Regions from separate parts of the Homo sapiens genome. Here region 1 is linked to region 2. Evidence: fine-mapped expression QTL. A gene starts in region 2. The other region holds a variant in brackets. All regions are shown on one strand. Distances are from middle to middle. Region 1 overlaps UBE2L3 (ubiquitin conjugating enzyme E2 L3). Region 2 holds the start of UBE2L3 (ubiquitin conjugating enzyme E2 L3).

Region 1 (9,822 bases), 55 kb before region 2:
TATATTAATAAAATAACGTGTGTCTTTCAAACTTGGGTGGTTTATCAGCTGTGCCCAGGAGACCCTCAGAGAAACAAGCACGGACAAAGAGCAGCTCCCTCTTGGCTCAAACCACTCCAGGAAATGGCCCATTCTCCATTCTGGTTTTGTTCATGCTGCAATTTTCTTTATTCCTTTTTAGGGTGGGAGTGGGAGATTGTCCTCACCAGGCTGCTTTGGAAGAGGCATAATACTATAATCTCAGTATTGATTTAAGAAGTCACCTGTAGGCTGAGTGTGGTGGCTCACACCTGTAATCCCAGCACTTTGGGAGGCCGAGGCGGGCAGATCACCTGAGGTCAGGAGTGCGAGACCAGTCTGACCAACATGGAGAAACCCCATCTCTACTAAAAATACAAAATTAGCTGGGCATTGGTGGTGCATGTCTGTAATCCCAGCTACTGGAGAGGCTGAGGCAGGAGAATCGCTTGAACCCGGGAGGCGGAGGTTGTGGTGAGCCGAGGTCGCGCCCCTGCACTCCAGCCTGGGTAACGAGCGAAATTCCATCTCAAAAACAAAAGTCATCTGTTTAGATGTAAGCCATTCTACGGGATAGGCGTGAGGAGACCCTGCAACCCTGTGGGAATACATTTAAATTTTTCTAGGAGGAGCAGTCTTCCCGGGAAATGGGATACCATGGTTCCTAACTTCTGGCAATGTAGGGATGCCCTGTGGACTGGGGCCGCATGTGGCTTAGCTGAAAGCTCCTGAGGTGCAGGAGCAGATGGGGAAGGCAGTGCGAGTCCTCTAGAGCACAGAGTCCTTCTGCACCACTCCGCAGGATGGAAAGGCAGATGGAATACCATGTGGTCCTTGTCTCATTTCATGAAATAGCATCTATGAGGCAGGCACCGATGTCCCCATTTTACAGGGGTAGAGGCAGGAGTGGCAGAGCAGGGCTTTGAAACTACTCATTCATTTATTTAATGTGCACTGGGCCCTAGCCTGGGCCAAACATGGAATCAGGGGCCAAGAGAGCTCTCATCCAGCCTAGGCAGCTTGGAGAGACGTGTGGCTTTCTGAAGGGTGAGTGTGGGATGTCGCTCCTCCTTCCTGCTTCTACCCACTCATGGCCCCATCCCCTTGACTGTGGCTTCAGTCCCTTTTTCTGGCTCCACACTCGTCTTCCATCTTGACCTTCACTAGACTTGGACTCTCCCATCTGCAGCACTTTTCCTGCTTTCTTGCACCCATGCTTGTGAGCTGGAATCACTGTACAGTTGCTCCTCCTGCTGCCTAGCCTCCACCTCCTCGCCTCAGCCTGCTGAGATCTGGCCACACTCCTGCAGGCTGCTGGCTAAGGCTGGGAGAGGGGTGGCCTGAAGTTAGCCGGGGATACAGACGTAGCTCCCTTGAGGGGCTTCTGTTATGGAAGTGTTCTGAGAGGAGGAGGCAGCTGGTTGTGCAGCTTTAGGCTCAGGAGAGGTGTGGGTGGGCAGGAGAGACCTGGGGGTCTGCACAGATGCTATATGAGTGGCTACTGTCACTCAGGGAGGGAAGGAGGGATGAGCAGAGTCGACAGCAGCCCTGGGGACCGTGAGACTTTTTTTTTCTTTTTAAAGACAGGATTTCATCCTGTCACCCAGGCTGGAGTACAGTGGCACAATCACGTCTCTGCAGTTCTCCACCTCCCCAGGCTCAGGTGATCATCCCACCATGGCCTCCTGAGGAGCTGGGAGCACAGGCATGCCTGGTTCATTTTTGTATTTTTTGTAGAGATGGGGTTTTGGCATGTTGCCCATGCTGGTCTCAAACTGCTGGGCTCAAGAGATCTGGTCACCTTGGCCTTTCCTAAAGTGTTGGAATTAACAGGCATCAGCCACAGCAGCCGGCTGACCATGAGCATTTGAGTGAAGTGAAGCCAGGCACAGTGGCTCACACCTATCATCCCAGCACTTTGGGAGGCTGAAGTGGGAGGATCACTTGAGCTCTGGAGTTCCAGACCAGCCTAGACAACATACTAAGACCTTATTTCTGTTATTTAAAAAAGAAAAAATAATGGCTGGGCATAGTGGCTCACGCCTGTAATTCCAGCACTTTGGGAGGCTGAGTCGGGAGGAAGGCTTGAGGCTAGCAGATTGAGACCAGACTGTGTAACATGCCAAAACCCTGTCTCTATAAAAAATACAAAAATTAGCCGGGTGTAGTGACACAAGCCTGTAGTTCCATCTACTCAGGAGGCAGAGATAGGAGGATCGACTCAGCCTGGGAGGTAGAGGCTGCAGGGAGCAGTGATCATGCCACTGCACTCTAGCCTGGGTGACAGAGTGAGCCTGACTCAAAAAAAAAAAAAAAAAAAAAAACTGAAGTGAGGGGGCATAGACTGGTAGGATAATCAGGCCCACCTGATTATAATGAGGCCCATCTCACGAGGAGGTGAAAGTGATAAGGACCTGTTGGGGTGGTGACTGGTGGGCCACAGGGGCTGTGGGGGCAGCAACAGTGTCTTAGCCAAGCGGTTCACTGTTATCCGCCCACTCGGCATTCGTGTCTGGAGGGTCCACTCTGTGCTAGGCCAGGGCTGGAGCTGACATGGCCTGGTCTGCAAGGAGCTCCCAGTCTGGTACATACAGGGACAGTCATCCAGTGTCATCCAGTGACACACAGAGGAAGATGTAGGAGAAACCCACGGCAACATGTGGAGCCACAGGGGGGTTTCTGAACCTGGCCAGCACCGGGTGGGGAATGCTCTCTGGAAGTGACTTCCTTCCCAAGGCCTCAGTTATCGCCTCTGCACGGTGGTCCTTTCTACTCTGATCCTCTGAGGCCTCCAGGGTTCCCTAGGGGCCCTCTATGAACAAGAACACGTTCCAATAATCTGGGAAATGGCCACTTACCAGGCATGGACCAGGCTAGGCACTGCACTGCACTGGGAGCAATGGTACCCTCAGCTCCCCTCTGTTCTGGGTTGGTGCCCGGTTCCCCCATGCCATATCCAGGAAGCAGAGAGAGAAGGAAGAGCCAGGCAGGACAGGGTGGGAAATGCTGAGAGCAGCTCTGGCTTCTTTCAGGGCTGGGTTAGATGGCACCAAATGAAAGGAGAAGCAGCAAGGGGCAGCAGGTGACAGAAGTCAGGCTGCAGCGGGTACAGGAGTGATGAAATGGATGCTTATTTCATGCTGAACAATTAATAGTGAACAAGGCCAAAAATGGTGGCTGGTGGCTGTAGGGAAGAGGAAGTTGACAGAGGGGCTTAAAGGTCTCTGGCTCTGGGGAGGGTGGTAACTGGCTGTTTCTGGGCTCAGAGGGACCCTGTGGGAAGAAATATGCCAAATGGTGGAATGCAACAGGCTCTGCAGTCAGAATGTGAACAAAAACAGGCCAGGGGTCTTGGTTGTCTTTAAAAGCAGGGATAAGGATGCCACAGGGCTCTCCTGAGACTCAGAGGGTAAAGTGCTAGGTATGTTAAAGGCTAGTAAAATGACACCCCAAGAAGTTTCCTTCCCCAAGACCTGCAGATCCAGCTGAACAGTGCAGGCCTAGTCTCAGCTGGTGTCAAATTCCAGGCAGGGAAGGCCTAGCCAAAAAAGTCCTGGGTCTGGCTGAGCCCTTGCTGAGTTAGCACCACTGCCGCAGCACCCTGGCAGTGGGCTGTACTGGGGACTCAGAGTGTTTCTGGCTGGCACCATTCATGGACATGGCCCAGCTCCACCCACAGGCACACCCTTATCAATTCTGTGACCTCTTGGGACCGCAGGTTTGCCTCTTCTAAACATGGATTGTTAACACTCCCAGGAGGCTCCAGGATGACCCACGCATGTAAGTGATGCACCCACACTTTAGTCCCTGTCCCCTCAACGAGACGCCCAAGAGCGCCCTCTGCAGGCCCCGACTGTCTGAAGTCTCCGGCTTTCTTGCTGATTATACCTCATCTCCTTCCCTCTAGGGAGGCAGGAACACTTCTATGTACCTCTTTTGGAGAGGCTGGGAATGGGGAGAGAGATCAGAAGCCCCAGGACCTGGGCCCCAGCCAGCCCTCCCATCTCCAAGAGCATAGGCCCCTGGCACTGCCCGCTCCCAGGAAGGAAGAAACCCACACGACTAACCAGTGTCTGAGAGCATTTTTATTACGGGCAGCAGAACGGGATCGCAGCATCTTAGAAAGCCTATTCTCTGCCGTGGTGGGGAGTAGGGAGCAGAGGGAAGGACCCAGCACACTTCAAGAAACCAGGCGGGTGTGAATTCCTGAGTGAGCTTGGGGCAGCAGTGGGTGGCTGCTCCACAGCTCGCCCCTCCTCCAGAGGACCCAGCTTTTTGGTTTTGGAGCAGCCAGGGCTGTTCGCCAGCTTGCTCAGAGCCTACCCTGAAGGCATGGCTGGCAGGAGCAAGCCGCCCAGGCCCAAAGGAGAGACACCCACTGGCTCGAAAGCCAAGCCTCTGCTGACGGGGCCAACCCTGGGGTGCCAGTGCCAGGGCTGAGAGTCCCTGAGGGGCTGCCGGCACACAGGTATCCTCCCGTGATGAGCAGAGTGCAGTGAGGGGTTGACAGGCAGGCAGAGCTACGTTGGCAGAAATACGAAGCAATGGGACAGTTTCCAAGAATGGCAACATTTCTGGATCCAGAGAAGCAACAAGAACAAATGGTGGCTTGTTTGGATAGCTGACAGAATTTGGCATTTTATTACAAACTGGAGTGTGAGTGAAATAAAATCCATCATCACTTTTCTGCTAATGAAGACAGATGTGGAAACGCCAGCCCGGTGCCCTTGCCATCCCGGGCACAAGGGAGTCTCCAGAAACCTGCCCTTGGCGTACCTAGGACAAAAGAAGCCGAGTTCGTGTACACACCGCAGGGGCCATGCGCCTGAACAATGTTAGGCTGCCGAACCTGCCCATCACTCCCCACTTCTGCACAGACCAGACCAAGCTGTCTTACACGCCTGTAGGCCCCGGAAAGATCTCAAGTTATAGAATTAAAATTAAAACAAAAAGCAAAGTTTAAGTCATCTTCTCCACAGGATCTAGTCCCCCCCAAGAGCCAAGAAGGGAAGCCGCCAGTGGCAGAAGCGGGGTTGGTGACACACGGCATTTGGATCGTCGGCTTCCTTGGGGTGTCAGAGCGACATGGATTCTCTACTAGTGCGGGGACAATCCCATTTGCCTTGAAAAGACATTAATATTCAAATCTTTACAAGTTTATCTGACGATAAATTCTAAGGTCAATTTTTATTTCTACAAAAAAAGGCAGTCAAAACAATATAAAACACATTGAAAGGATATTACTGAGTGAGCTTCAAGTGGAGCTTGACTCTGCAAAGGCTGTGAGTCCGAAGGGAGAGGAAGTCCGTCTTGTTCCCGGGCTGGGCTGGCTGCTCTGGAGGAGGGGGTCAGCAGGGGCCCAGGCGACCCCAGACTGGTGCTTTAAATAGCCGAGTCCTGCTAATTCCAATCCTACAAAGGGTCAAAGTGTGCCGAGGGAGGGCTGTGGCAGGGCC[A/G]CTGCACGGAGGAAGTGGAGAGCAAGCTCCGTGGCACATTCGGATGAAGCTCGGTGACAGATGAGCTAGGAGTTTCAAACGGACATTCTGGCTGTAGCTTTGCCTGCAAGGACCAGCAGATCTTCTACAATGGCTGCAGGGAGAAGTGCCAACCTGGGACCTCAGGAGCCTTTCTGGCGAGATTCATCACACACAGTGTGCACAGCATCCTCCTGACTAGCAGGCCCCCCATTTCGGGGCCACCACAGACCTGTGATTATAGGGCTTCTCTGTGCAGGCCAGGCCAGAGGTCAGTTACACACACTGACATCAGGGCTTGCCCAATTAACTGATGTTACTGTGGTAACATCAGCTGGAGTTTCACACAAGAACTGAGGAGAAGGACTGGAGGAGGGGTGTGGCTGTTTGTTTTTAAATTTTTTAAAAGGATGTTATAAACTGGAGTCAGGAGAATTTAAACCAACTCCCACACTGGGCAACAGTGCCACACATGCTAAGAAAAGCCACCAGGACCGCCAGGGCAGTCTCTTCTCCTTTGTGGAGGCGAGCCCGGGGTCTGGGGAAGTAAGTAAGTGAAAAATAAACTCGGTGCCAGAAAGTGGGAGTGGCAAGGGTAGGGAAGAAAGGGAACCACAACCGTTTTTTTTCCTTTTTTTTAAACCTTATGGGTTAAATGTAACTTGAAGATTTTGGATAAAATTGGACAAGAAAAGAAACACCATTCTTTTGAAGTAGATTGAAGCAGTGATTTTTAAAACAAAGAGAGCAGAACTAGAACATCTTAAATTTTTAATCCTTTCTTTACAGGTTACCTAGACCACTTTTGATTAAGAAAACTGTAGAAAGTTAGTAACTGCCACAAGCGAACGCCAGGCGGTGGCACGTGTCAATTTCCACAGAGTCCTGCTTTGCGGGGTGTCTGAATGCACTGCACGGGGTCTCTGCTCACACTTGCTGGAACCAATCGTGGCAGATTTTAGTCCACAGGTCGCTTTTCCCCATATTTCTTTGTAAACTCTTCAGCATTCTTACAGAATTTTTTACGGTCCTTAGAGTATTCTTCAGCTAGGTCAGCCCGAAGCGGGTGCTCAGGCTGGGGGTCATTCACCAGTGCTATGAGGGACTGGATTACTGCCAAGAGAAGGACAAGGCATGGGGGGTTAACACAGTCTCAGAAATGGCACAGGCAAGAGGCAGCTAATCCGGGAACAAAACTCTGGCTTTACAACTGATTTACAGCTAATGTGCTTTTAAGCCAAAGCTGCCTCCTATTTATCCAAAATTCTGACTGCCAGAAAACTCATCTTTCCTCTGTGATTAGAAGACACTGATGGACAACAAATAGCTAACACTACAGTGGATAATTGTTCACAGTGATGTGCTTCCGCCTCCAGGAAGCCTTCCTGACCTAACACCTGGGGAGGTCTTAGCCCTCAGTCACTCCCAGCCCTTTTTTCTTGGCGGGGGGTTGGGGAGGAGGGACAGGGTCTCACTCTGTCACCTAGGCTGCAGTGCAGTGGCACCATCTTGGCTCACTGCAGCCTCAACCTCCTGGGTTGACCTCAAGCAATCCTCCAGCCTCAGTCCCCCAAGTAGCCAGGACTACAGTCGTGCACCACCATGCCCGGCTAATCCAGTCCTCTTGTGTACTCTGGAGATAGGAGGCCTAGTATTGAACTGACTGCTCACTCTCATGCATGCACACAGGGTCACTTTCTTCAGGGCAGGACCGGGTAGAACTTCCCTGCATCAGCCCAGCACCCAGCACCATGCTCGGCTCAGGGAAGTTTCGGTTAAGGTGACTGAGTGGGCACTAGAGAGAAGGGTATGTGATGGCGCTGCACTTGTCAATGCGCAATGACCCAACTCTGGAAGACCCTTAGGAGTTTCTGAACCCTCTAGAAAGGGTCACTGGGGCCAGCCAATGGGAAGCTGACAACCGCCATCGCATCACATTGTCAAGACCACAGGCAGATGTCACGCTGATGGCTCTGATGGGTGCCACAGTACTCCCCCTAGGTGCCGTAGCCCAGACGTGCCCCAGGGTGGAAGGATAGTGGGGAATCAGAAGCAGCTGCTACCCACACCTCCTCACATACTTTGCCACAGTTGCCCCCTGACCCTGTCAGGACCAGCACCCTCAGAATGTTCCTTCCCACTGTAAAACAGTGCCCCTCTTCTCCGAACTGCTGATGCCACAAATTCCTTCTTATTTTTTTTAGACAGTCTTGCTGTCACTCAGACTGGAGTGCAGTGGCTCAATCATACTTTACTGCACGGTACCCTCAAACTCCTGGGTGTAAATGATCCTCCTGCCTCAGCTTCCTGAGTAGCTGAGACTACAAGCACATGCCATCACGTCCAGCTAATTTTTTTTTTTAACCTAGGCTAGAGTACAGTGGTGCAATCACAGCTCACTGCAGTCTTATCTCCTGGGCTCAAACAATCCTCCCACCTTGGCCTTGAGAGTAGTTGGGATTACGGGTGTTAGCCACTGCTCCTGGCCTAGTTTTTTGTAGAGATGGGGTCTCACTATGTTGCCCAGGCTGGTCTCAAACTCCTGGGCTTGAGTGATCCTACCGCCTCATCCTCCCAAAAGTGCTAGGATGACAGGCATGAAGCCACTGCACCTGGTCAATTCCTTTATTAAGGGCTCATATTGTTCATTCAGCATTACAAGAAATGGATTAAAATGCAAATGCTAGCCAGGCAGATCACCTGAGGTCAGGAGCTCAAGACCAGCCTGGGCAACATGGTGAAACCCCGTCTCTACTAAAAATACAAAAATTAGCCAGGCATGGTGGCCCATGCCTAGAGTCCCAGCTACTCAGGAGGCTGAGGCAGGAGAATCGCTTGAACCCGGGAGACGGCAGTTGCAGTGAGCCGAGATCGTGCCACTGCACTCTAGCTTGGGCAACAGAGCGAGACTCTGTCTCAAAAGTAAATAAATAAAACAAAATGCTGATGCTGGCTGAGTCATATGCAAAGGCATAATCATTCAACAGCACACATTAAGTGAGGGCCACAGCACAAAGTACTCCTGGCCTGGTGTCCAAAACCCACCTGCCTAACCTCTGCTTTTTACTGTGCCTGGTGAGAATGGGAAAGAGAGGGCTCCTGTGACCACAGTGGGTAGAGGTGAAGCAGTGGGGCAGAGGCGAGGAGGGCATTGCGCATGCAATGCTGACAGGTTCCACGTTTGTTGGGGGTGGATGGGCAAGGAGGGTGGACTGTGAACAGCAAGCAGGGGCAAGGGGCCTGGAAAGCTCTCTGCAGGCCAGGGTGGCCTCTAATTCAGTCTCTAAGCCTCTTCAGGGGTAGGTGGTATCACCTCCCTGTACAAGCCACCTGTACCTCTAGAGGCAGCAGGCCCTGGAGGTATATTTTTATTTAATAAACATTTATTTATTTATTTAATAAACGAAGCCCACCCTTGGCTGACTGGCCACAGTGTATTTCAGTGCACACCACCCTCGGTGTGAGACTGCTCCCTTTTCCTGGCTGTTCTTGACTTCAGGGCTGGAAATTGAGCCACAGTCGCCTAAGAGCACAAATAGGTGGCTCCCCTTCCTTTCCCATGATTAGAAATGGCCCTGTAACAGGAGAATTACTACCGCATTAGCATTTTAGAAACCTCACTGGGCTAAGGACAGGCTGAGTACTTCGTTAGGGGCACGCTCAGGAGTTTTCACCTCACTCTCTGATATGAATACTTAGGCTCTCTACTTCTCACTATCATCACCTTGGTAACTAATGCAGAGGTTGGTGGCTCACACCTGTATTCCCAGCACTTTGGGAGGCCAAGGAGGAAGGATCACTTGAGGCCAGGAGTCTGAGACTGGCCTGGGCAACATAGCAAGACCTGGCCTCTACAAAAAATAAAAAATAAAATTAGCCGGTTGTGGTGGCACATGCCTGTAGTCCCAGCTCCTTGGGAGGCTGAGGTGGGATGATTGCTTGAGCCCACAATATTGAGGCTGTAGTGAGCTGTGATTGTGCCACTATACTCAGCCTGAGTGACACAGCAAGACCCTATCGCAAAAAAAAAATAATATATATATATATTTTTTGAGATGGAGTCTCGCTCTGTCGCCCAGGCTGAGTTAGTGGCACAATCACAGCTCACAATCTCGGCTCACTGCAAGCTCCGCCTCCCAGGCTCATGCCATTCTCCTGCCTCAGCCTCCCGGGTAGTGGGATTACAGGCACCTGCCACCATGCCCGGCTAATTTTCTGTAATTTTTTAGTAGAGACGGGGTTTCACCGTGTTAGCCAGGATGGTCTCGATCTCCTGACCTCGTGATCCACCTGCCTCCGCCTCCCAAAGTGCTGGATTACAGGCGTGAGC
Region 2 (9,822 bases):
ACCATTAACTAAGGTGGGACAGGAGGAGATGCATGGGGCCAGAGGGAGAGAGTCACAGGAGGAGCTAAGACTCAGATGCCTACAGATCTATGTGCCGTTCCCAAGAAAACTCTGGAAGTGGTTGGAGTCTGGCTCAGGAGGAACGTCTCTGTGGCTCTCTAATGTGCACAGTGTGTGCAGTGTGTGTGCAGTGTGAAGCTGCAAAGAAATGTGGCTCTCACATTTACTGCTGTAGCAAAGAATATAGAAATATCTTAAACGTAATAAATGTTCCAATAAAATGAGAATACTTTCAAGTGTCCTCTTATAATAAAATTTTAAAGCAACAGTCTCCTAATTTAGAGTTTTAACAAGATCAGAAAAGGCCCCAGTACCCTGAGACAAGAGTTTTTGTCTCAGGGTTTTCTTTTTTTTTTTTTTTTTTTGAGACGGAGTCTCGCACTGGAATGCAATGACACAATCTTGGCTCACCGCAACCTCTGCCTCCCGGGTTCAAGCAATTCTCCTGCCTCAGCCTCCCGAGTAGCTGGGATTACAGGCACCCACCACCACGCCCAGCTAATTTTTTGGATTTTTAGTAGAGACGGGGGTTTCACTATGTTGGCCAGGCTGGTCTCGAACTCCTGACCTCATGATCCGCCCACCTCGGCCTCCCAAAGAGCTGGGATTACAGGTGTGAGTCACCACGCCTGGCCTGCCTCAGAGTTTTCTAGTAAATACCTTAAAAGGTCCCAAATGTTGCAATAATTGAGTATACTCCTTCCCATCACCTGTCCCAAACATTTACAAAGAATACCATTAAGGGAGGCTGAAACAGTCCCAACTTACTGGAATGCATGAATTTAGAAAAAAAGACGCAACGTTTTTCTCAATTCACAAAGCCTCAGTGGATTCAGGACATTTACACTGGCATAACATCACATATAAAACTCCCCTCACCTCCTGAAACATGTGACATACTCATTGCTCTATCTCCTTAATCACCCAACCTCAGAATCTAAACCTATACTCAAAAGCAAACTACCTCACTGCTTAATACAACGAAACCCAAGGAATGAACTTTTAGAGGTTCCTCCTACTATGACTATGAACTGGGAGAAAATATAACAATATGAAGTTCTGAGTGAACATTTTTAAATAGCATTAGGCTGGGCGCAGTGGCTCACACCTGTAATCCCAGCACTTCGGGAGGCCTCGGCGGGCAGATCACCTGAGGTTAGGAGTTAGAGACCAGCATGGCAAACATGGTGAAACCTCCTTTCTAATACAAAATTAGCAGGGAGTGGTGGTGCACACCTATAGTATCAGCTACTTGGGAGGCTGAGGCAGGAGAATCGCTTGAACCTGGGAGGCAGAGGTTGTAGTGCACAGAGATCGTGCCATCGCGCTGAAGCCTGGGCAACAAGAGTGAAACTCCTTAACTCAACAGTTATGTCATGATAAGTAATAAGACATTACACACACACCCCTCTAAATCCACAGATTTCCCCTCTGAGAAAAGCCCTTCTGGGAAGCTACTCAACAGGAGGGCCCTTAGGGGAAATGTGTGCAGTGTGAAGCTGCAAAGAAATGATCAGATGGCAATCAGTTGCCTAAGCCACACATAAAGGTTTCACTTTTGGCTTTTGCAGCAATTTCCCCATCCTGATTGAAGCAATGGTTACAATCTGGTTGTAGCCAACAATGCTAAATTAGCTGCTTGCAAATTAAAATGTACTTAATGTTTTATTAACACTGTAATTCCTAAAAAGGCTTCTAAAAGAGGTTAAGCCTCCTGGCAAGTGCTTTTGAAATAAAAGACTTTATCATACTCACTTTGCCTAAAATAACTTCTCAGTGTAGTATATGTAAATCACTCTACTTTTAATAATGTGTTTTACACTATCTGCAGACAGTCCATTGTTACAAAGAAATCTTTGCTGTGGAATGTCCTAGAAAACATTTTTAACAGAAATCTAAAGTTCTTTAAGATGTAATTAATTTGATCATTCAACATTTGCTAGATTGCTATGCCTAAGGCACTGTTCCATGCACTAAGCCCCAACTTTTCACCAACGAAAATCACTTTATTACCACCCTATGTACTGAAAAGACTGTTTATCAACTTGTATCAATAATTTTTCTTCCTTTAAAAGAAAAAAAAAACAGTCTTAAACATTGATTCTCACAGCCAATGATCAGCATTACATAACTGGTGTTCCCCTAGTGAACTGAAAGCCTTTCCATCCTCAACTTAAGAAACAACACACCGCTCCATGCAGCCTTTGAGTAAGAAAGACAGCCTGACAAGAGGCATGGAATTTGGATCCTGGAGCCAGGAAGAGTCAGCGTCTTCTCTCTCCCCACCACGTTCCACAATTCTACCTTAGGTAACTCCCTTAACCTACTTAACCTCACAATGTCCTCATTTATAAAAAATACAAATGACAATACACTAACTTTGAGTGTTGAAAAGATGACTTACGTAAATAACCTAATACTTAATAAATACTCAGTTAATGTTACAATTTTTTTCCAAGGTCTGTTTTTTTTTAGAAACAGAGTAATAATTTTAAAACCATAATAAGTCCCCTCTTAGACCCCTGAGAGCCTGGAGATTCCAAACTGGGTCAACTGGGATAGGCTAGGGGGCTACCAGGATGAATTAGGTCAAGATCCCTGCCCTTCGGGATCTCAGAACCCAGTACAGGAAAGACAAGTCTGTAACACAAAGAGATTGTGACAAGTGCTCAAAGAGAAATATAAAGAAAGCGCTGTGGTCACACAAAGGAGGAAACAACACATTCTGAAGGGGGATGTGGGAGCACGGGCTCACAGAGTAGTTGGCACTGGAGTTGAACCTGGGACTTCTCTGGAAGGGAGAAGTGAGGAGAAGGCAGCTTTTCTTGGGTAGAGCAAACAACACGTGCAAAGGGACATCAGACAGCAAGTAAGAGCAGGAGACTTTGCTTTGGAGAAAGAACCGAATTCGATCACAACTCACTCTCCCTAGCTAGGTAACCCTGGGCAAGCCAAAGAATCTTTTCTCATCGACAAAATGGAAATCACAATGTCTACTTCACAGGAAGGATTAAACATGATCATGCATATAAAGCACGAAGTAAAAGCTGGAAAAATAGTAGCTACTGTGATTAGGTGCAAGAACTGTGGGAAACCAAAGGGCAGGAGGTGAGGCTCAAGGGATTGCTTTCAGCCAGTCTCAGAAAGGTCCTGCATGCCAAGTAAGAGGTTAGGATTAACTGCTGAGGACAATAACACCATAGAGGTTTTTAACAGGAGTGAAAGAATTGAGTTATCTGCTTTAAAAGAACTCTGGTGTCCGTCAGGGGTAGTCTGGGGAGGAGAGCACTTGGGAGGGCACCTGAGAGATGAGGATATAGATTCAGAGTAATTTCAGTAACATTAGAAAGCAAGGCATGCACTCCAGAAATCTTTTTTTTTTTTTTTTTTTTGACATGGAGTCTCACTCTGTCGCCCTGGCTGGAGTGCAGTGGTGCAAACTTGGCTCACTGCAACCTCCACCTGCCGGGTTCAAGCGACTCTTCCACCTCAGCCTCCCGGGTAGCTGAGATTACAGGCAAATGCAACCACGCCCAGCTAATTTTTATATTTTTAGTAGAGACAGGGTTTCACCATGTTGGCCAGGCTGGTCTTGAACTCCTGACCTCAAGTGATCCGCCCGCCTCGGCCTCCCAGGAGTGCTGGGATTACAGGCGTGAGCCATCGCGCCCGGCCTGCACTCCAGAAATCTTTCTAAATTTAAATCCACAAGGGTTAATGGACGACTGCACCTGGGAGTAGGGTAGGAAAGAAAGCCATTAACCGACCCCTTATCTGGTGAATGGTGGTGTCACTAGCTTAAGAGATGAGGAGAGGTCTGAAGTCCTCTGACTGTTCTTTTGTGCCCACTTCCACTCCAGTTTTATAAAGTTAATGTCCTCTCTAGCCCTTAGGGAACAAAAGAAAGGAAACGTTCCCAGGGACGGAGGGAATGCTCAGAGACTGTGGCTCCAAGTTCAATGTCTAGCTCTACCAAGCACTGCTCCGCCTAGAACGAACCCCAGCTCTTTATCTCCCCTCAGGAAACTGGCTCCTGGGCCTTTTTTTAATTTCCGGCCCGTTGCAGGCCGGCAGCACTACCCAGCCGCCGACTCACAGATGCTGGCGGGGTGGGCTACAGAGGACCTTGGCAAATCCACTGGCAAAAGTACTAAGCCAATTTAGCATGTGTTCCTCACCAAAAGGTGCCAATTAGCGAGAAAGCACCCTGCTGCATTCAAGATCCAAAGTACCAAATTATTATTATAAACTTTGGCCCGTTTTGATTCGAACGACTGAAATCAACCGTTATCCCCCCAAAAATGGCACTTTATCAGGGAGGGGAGATCGGGATGACTGAGTGGAGGAGAGGGAAGCAGAACCGCGCCGCGATCGGGGCCGACCTCAGGCCTTCCTGGAGTTGGAACTTACCCGCTGTGTGACTCTGCAGTCACAAGGCGACAGTTTGCTAGGACCCAGCGCAATTCCAAACGACCCACCAACAAACTGACCTAACTTTGGCCGCCTGGCCTCCTTCTCTCTTTCCTAGCCCGAACCTCCCAGACTCCCGAGCTGCGGCCGGGCCAAGCGGAGCTGCAAGCCCGGCGCGCTGCGGCCCAGGGCGGGGCGGTTCCGCGGCGCGGGCTCCGGGCAGGGGCTCCGGCGCTCGGGCCTTCCCCGAAGGCGCCCGGTTTGGAGCCTCCCAACCGGGCTCTCACATTAACGACGCCCTCAGATCGGACCGCGGCCTCCGCGACAGGGGGACGCGGCCAAGCTCCGGGCGGAGAGTGGCGTGAACGCCCCGGGCCGGGCTGAGGGGCCGACAGCGGCTCCCAGCGCGGCCTTGCGCTCCCGCCCAGGCTGCGGCCTAGGCCAGCCCCGTTAGCACCTTGAGCCTGCGCGCGGCCCAGGGAACCGACGAGGCCGTGTAGGGCAGGAAGCCAGACGGCAGCGCCCTGAGAAGCCGCCGCCTGCCTCGGGGATCCGGAGCCTAGGACGCCGCCCCACGCCCGGCCGCTGCCAGAGAATGGCTTTTACCTTCATCAGCCTCCTGCTGGCCGCCATCTTGGATTTGGTGCTGCTCCTTCCCCAGAATGCATCGCGGCCGGCCGGGCGGCTGGAGCCCCCGCACTTCCTGGAGCGGGGGAGGGGCCGCGGGGCGGGGCACAGGAGCAGAGCGGAGCACCTACTGTGTGCTTCCCACTGTGCTGGGGGGCGCGTGGAGGAACGCAAGTGAACCGCACAGACTGGGCCTCAGCGTTTACGGATCGTCCAATCAGATGGCAGTTACAACCAGTGCCTGGCACATAGTAGGAGCATAATAAATACTGATTGCATAAAATAGTTGACCAGGCGCGGGGGCTCACGCCTGTAATCCCAGCACTTTGGGAGACCGAGGCGGGTGGATCACGCGGTCACGAGTTCGAGACCAGCCTGGCCAACGTGGTGAAACTCGGTCTCTACTAAAAATACAAAAAATTAGCCAGGCGTGGTGGCGGGCGCCTGTAATCTCTGCTACTCAGGAGGCTGAGGCAGGAGAATCGCTTGAACCCGGGAGGCAGAGGTTGCAGTGAGCCGAGATCTTGCCACTACACTCCAGCCTGGGTGACAGAGGAAGACTCCGTCTTGGGGGAAAAAAAAAAAGTTGAATAACCAAGGTTACTTCACACTGCCAAGCTCTGTGAAGAAAACTGGGTGATAGGAAAGTGACTGTGGGGACATACTTTGAGAGGTCAAGGAAGCCAAATTGAGGAAATGGCCCTACTAAGTGCCAGACCTCTCTCTAGTGCTTTATTTTCTTTAACCCTTGAAACCATCCTCTGGGATACGTTAGCATTAACATCCTCATTTCACAATAAACAGAAGCACAGAAGAAGCCAGTGACTTGCCCAAGGTCACACGGCCAGCTAGGAGCAGAGCCAGGCTCCTGTCACAGGTGGGCTGCTGGCTCCAAAGCCAATGCTGGGACCTGGAAAATGGGAAGGAACAGCTGGGAGGACTGGAGGAGAATGTTTCAAGCAGAGGAAGCAGCACTGGCGAAGACCATGAGGCTGTCTCAGTGTCCAGAATGGAGTAAAAGGATTATAGGGTGGGAGGGAGGCAGGGGACAGACCATGGAGGGTCTTGTAGAAAGGGGAGGAGTTGGTTTCTATTCCATGTGCTGTGAGAGGTCTTTGATAGATATGAGTATTGACTCCATGGTCAGATGATTTTTTTTTTTTTTGAGACAGAGTCTTGATCTGTCACCCAGGCTGGAGTACAGTGGCACGATAACAGCTCACTGCCGCCTCGACCTCCTAGGCTCAAGGGATCCTCCTGCTTCGCCTCCCAATTAACTGGGACTACAGGCACGTTCCACCACACCCTCCTAAGTTTTTTTTTATTTTTTGTAGAAATGAAGTCTCACTGTCTTGCCCAGGCTGGTCTCAAACTCCTGAGCTCAAGCAGTCCTCCCGCCGCAACCTCCCAAAGTGGTGGGATTACAGGCATGAGCCACCACACCTGGGCTGAGACGCATGTTTTAAAGAGTACTTTGGGGCTTGGCACAGTGGCTGATGCCTGTAATCCCAGCACTTTGGGAGGCTGAGGGGGGTGGATCACTTGAGGTCAGGAGTTTGAGACCACCCTGACCAACATGGTGAAACTCCGTCTCTACTAAAAATACAAAAATTAGCCAGGTGTGGTGGTGGGCGAACGTAATCCCAGCTACTCTGGATGCTGAGGCAGGAGAATCGCTTGAACCTGGGAGGCAGAGGTTGCAGTGAGCCAAGTCCGCGCCACTGCACTCCAGCCTGGGCGACAGAGTGAGACTCCATCTTAAAAAAAAAAAAAAAAAAAGGAGTACTCTGATTGGAAAATGGGGAATGGAGGTGGGTAAGAGGATAAGAAGGGGAGCAGGGGCCACTTGGAAACCGGTTGCAATCATTCAGGCAAAGAGGTGACAGTGGTTTGGACCTCAGGTAGCAATGCAGAGAGAAGAACATAGCTTCAGAATATACTCAGACCTTCTTAAGGAGTTTTTCTCTTTTTTTTTTTTTTTTTTTTTTTTTTTTTTGAGACACAGTTTCACTCTGTCACCCAGGGTGGAGTGCAAAATGGCATGATCTCAGCTCACTGTAACCTCTGCCTCCCGGGTTCAAGTGATTCTCCTGCCTCAGCCTCCTGAGTAGCATAGATTACAGGCACCTGCCACCATGCCCAGCTAATTTTTGTATTTTTAGTAGAGACAGGGTTTTAGCATTTTTGGCCAGGATGGTCTTGAACTCCTGACCTCAAGTGATCCACCCACCTTGGCCTCCCAAAGTGCTGGGATTATAGGTGTGAGTCACTGGGCCTGGACATTTTTCTCCATTTCTAAGAACAGTGGGTTTCTCCTGAAAGGAGAGAAGGAAAGGGAACTGGAAATAATATATCCTGGGGCCGGGTGTGGTGGTTCACACCTGTAATCCCAGCACTTTGGGAAGCCGAGGTGGGTGGATCACGAGGTCAGGAGATTGAGACCATCCTGGCTAACACGGTGAAACCCCATCTCTACTAAAAATACAAAAAATTAGCCGGGCGTGGTGGCGGGCGCCTGTATTCCCAGCTACTCGGGAGGCTGAGGCAGGAGAATGGCGTGAACCCGGGAGGCGGAGCTTGCCGTGAGTGGAGATAGCTCCACAGCACTCCAGCCTGGGTAACACAGCAAGACTCAGTCTCAAAAATATATATATATAGATATATATATCCTGGAATAAGGCTGGCCTCACACTCATCTTGGGAGCCCAGGCTTGACACGGTAAAGGAGGGAGAAACTAGATGACAAGCCTCATGTGATCAGCGATTCTGCCTGCCTTTTACCTCCCCCAAGGCCAGTACACTGAGTGTTCAATACACATTCAGCGTATGCATGAGGGACCCCATCAGATCTCTAGGGTCATGGTGGGACTTAGAAGTCTGGGACTGACTCTGGGGTCTACTGTGAGCACAGAACCTGCCCTTACTGGGCCCAGGACAAATAAAAAACATAGCTGTATTGGGAACTGCTTTCCTCTGTGGAGAATTACGGAGGAAGGGGACGCTTACGCTGAGAAATTCCAAGCCAGTTGAGGAAGCACAGTTCATACCTTTGACCCGGATGTGCTAAGCTGAGAATACAGAGTGGGATCATCAGAGGCTCAATGTCAAGGACTAGCCTTTGCCATGGCATCTTCTTACATCCTCACCGCTGCCTGCAAGATGACTCCCTTGCACTTTGCAGGTGGGGAGTCAAGCCGCTGAGCTACAAAGTGCTTTTACTAAACAAGCACTCAGGAAATGTACCCAGTCCCAGTGGAAGGGCTGCCTGGCCTTTGGGGTCCCTCTCCTGCTCTAAAACCTTCATTGCTCCCTCTAGCAGGCCTGGCTTCTAGTCATACCCGATCCCCTCCACTCAGCCAAACCTTGTTCATACAGACCTATCCTTTCTGTGCCATCTGCCCAAGCCTCCCATCAGAAGTAACCTTGTGGTGACTCATGCCTGTAATCCTAGCACTTGGGGAGGCCAAGGCAGGAGGATTGCTTGAGCCAAAGAGTTTGAGACCATCCTGGGCAACATAGGGAGACCCCGTCTCAACAAAAAATAAAAAAAGAATTAGCCAGGTGTGATGGCCAAGTAATTCTAGCTACTTGGGAGGCTGAAGTGAGAGGATCACTTGGGCCCGGGAGAGTGACACTACAGTGAGCCGTGATCGTGCCACTGCACTCAAGCCTGTGTGAAAGAGTGAGACCATGTCTCAAAAAAAAAAAAAAAAGAAAGAAAGAAAAGAAAAAGAAGTAGACTTTTTTGGCTGCGTACAGTCTCACACCTATAATCCCAGCACTTTAGGAGGCTGAAGCGGGAGAATTACTTGAGGCCCGGAGTTCAAGACCGGCCTGGGCAACATAGAAAGACTACCATATCTACAAAAATAAATAGTCCAGGTGCAGTGGCTCACACCTGTAATCCCAGCACTTTGGGAAGCTGAGGCAGGCGGATCACAAGGTCAGGAGTTCGAGACCAGCCTGGCCAACATAGTGAAATGCCGTCTCTACTAAAAATACAAAAATTAGCTGGGTGTGGTGGAGGGTGCCTATAGTCCCAGCTACTTGGGAGGCTGAGGCGGGAGAATCGCTCGAACCCGGGAGGGGGAGGTTGCAGTGAGCCGAGATCACACCATTGCACTCCAACCTGGGTGACAGAGTGAGAGTCCGTCTCAAAAAAAAAAAAAAAGTATTAATTTTTTTTTTTTGAGACGGAGTCTCGCTCTTCGCCCAGGCTGGAGTGCTGTGGCGCGATCTCGGCTCACTGCAACCTCCGCCTCCCGGGTTCACGCCATTCTCCCGCCTCAGCCTCCTGAGTGGCTGGGACTACGGGAGCCCGCCACCACGCCTGGCTAATTTTTTTTTTTTTTTTGGTATTTTCAGTAGAGATGGGGTTTCACTGTGTTAGGCAGGATGCTCTCGATCTCCTGAGCTCGTGATCTGCCCGACTTGGCCTCCCAAAGTGCTGGGATTATAGGCGTGAGCCACCACACCCGGCCAGTAATAAATTTTTTTTTTTTTTTTTTTGAGACGGAGTCTTGCCCTGTCGCCCAGGCTGGAGTGCAGTGGCGCAATCTCGGCTCACTGCAACCTCCGCCTCCTGGGTTCGAGCGATTTTCCTGCCCCAGCCTCCCGAGTAGCTGGGATTACATGTGCACACCTCTATGCCCAGCTAATTTTTGCATTTTTAGTAGAGACGGGGTTTCACCATGTTGGTCAGGCTGATCTCGAACTTCCGACCTC

Evidence for each region.
Region 1: its variant is fine-mapped to the expression of UBE2L3 in whole blood (TOPMed, PIP 0.98).

The regions. Positions count from the first base shown.
Region 1 is chr22:21,618,298-21,628,119 of GRCh38, reverse strand. It overlaps UBE2L3 (ubiquitin conjugating enzyme E2 L3), which reads right to left. Exons shown (of 4, transcript NM_003347.4): 4 at 4,086-6,605. The coding sequence ends at 6,451. YDJC (YdjC chitooligosaccharide deacetylase homolog) reads left to right here. Exons shown (of 5, transcript NM_001017964.2): 5 at 1-31. Among named protein-coding and RNA genes, the nearest start is that of YDJC, 6.8 kb to the left of the region's middle. RefSeq lists enhancers at 1-264, 4,375-4,908 and a silencer at 2,468-2,736. The variant A/G (reference allele first, on the strand shown) is at 5,475.
Region 2 is chr22:21,563,026-21,572,847 of GRCh38, reverse strand. UBE2L3 (ubiquitin conjugating enzyme E2 L3) reads right to left here and starts at 5,134. Exons shown (of 4, transcript NM_003347.4): 1 at 5,077-5,134. The coding sequence starts at 5,103. RefSeq lists an enhancer at 2,805-2,874 and silencers at 4,681-4,820, 5,071-5,310, 5,953-6,140.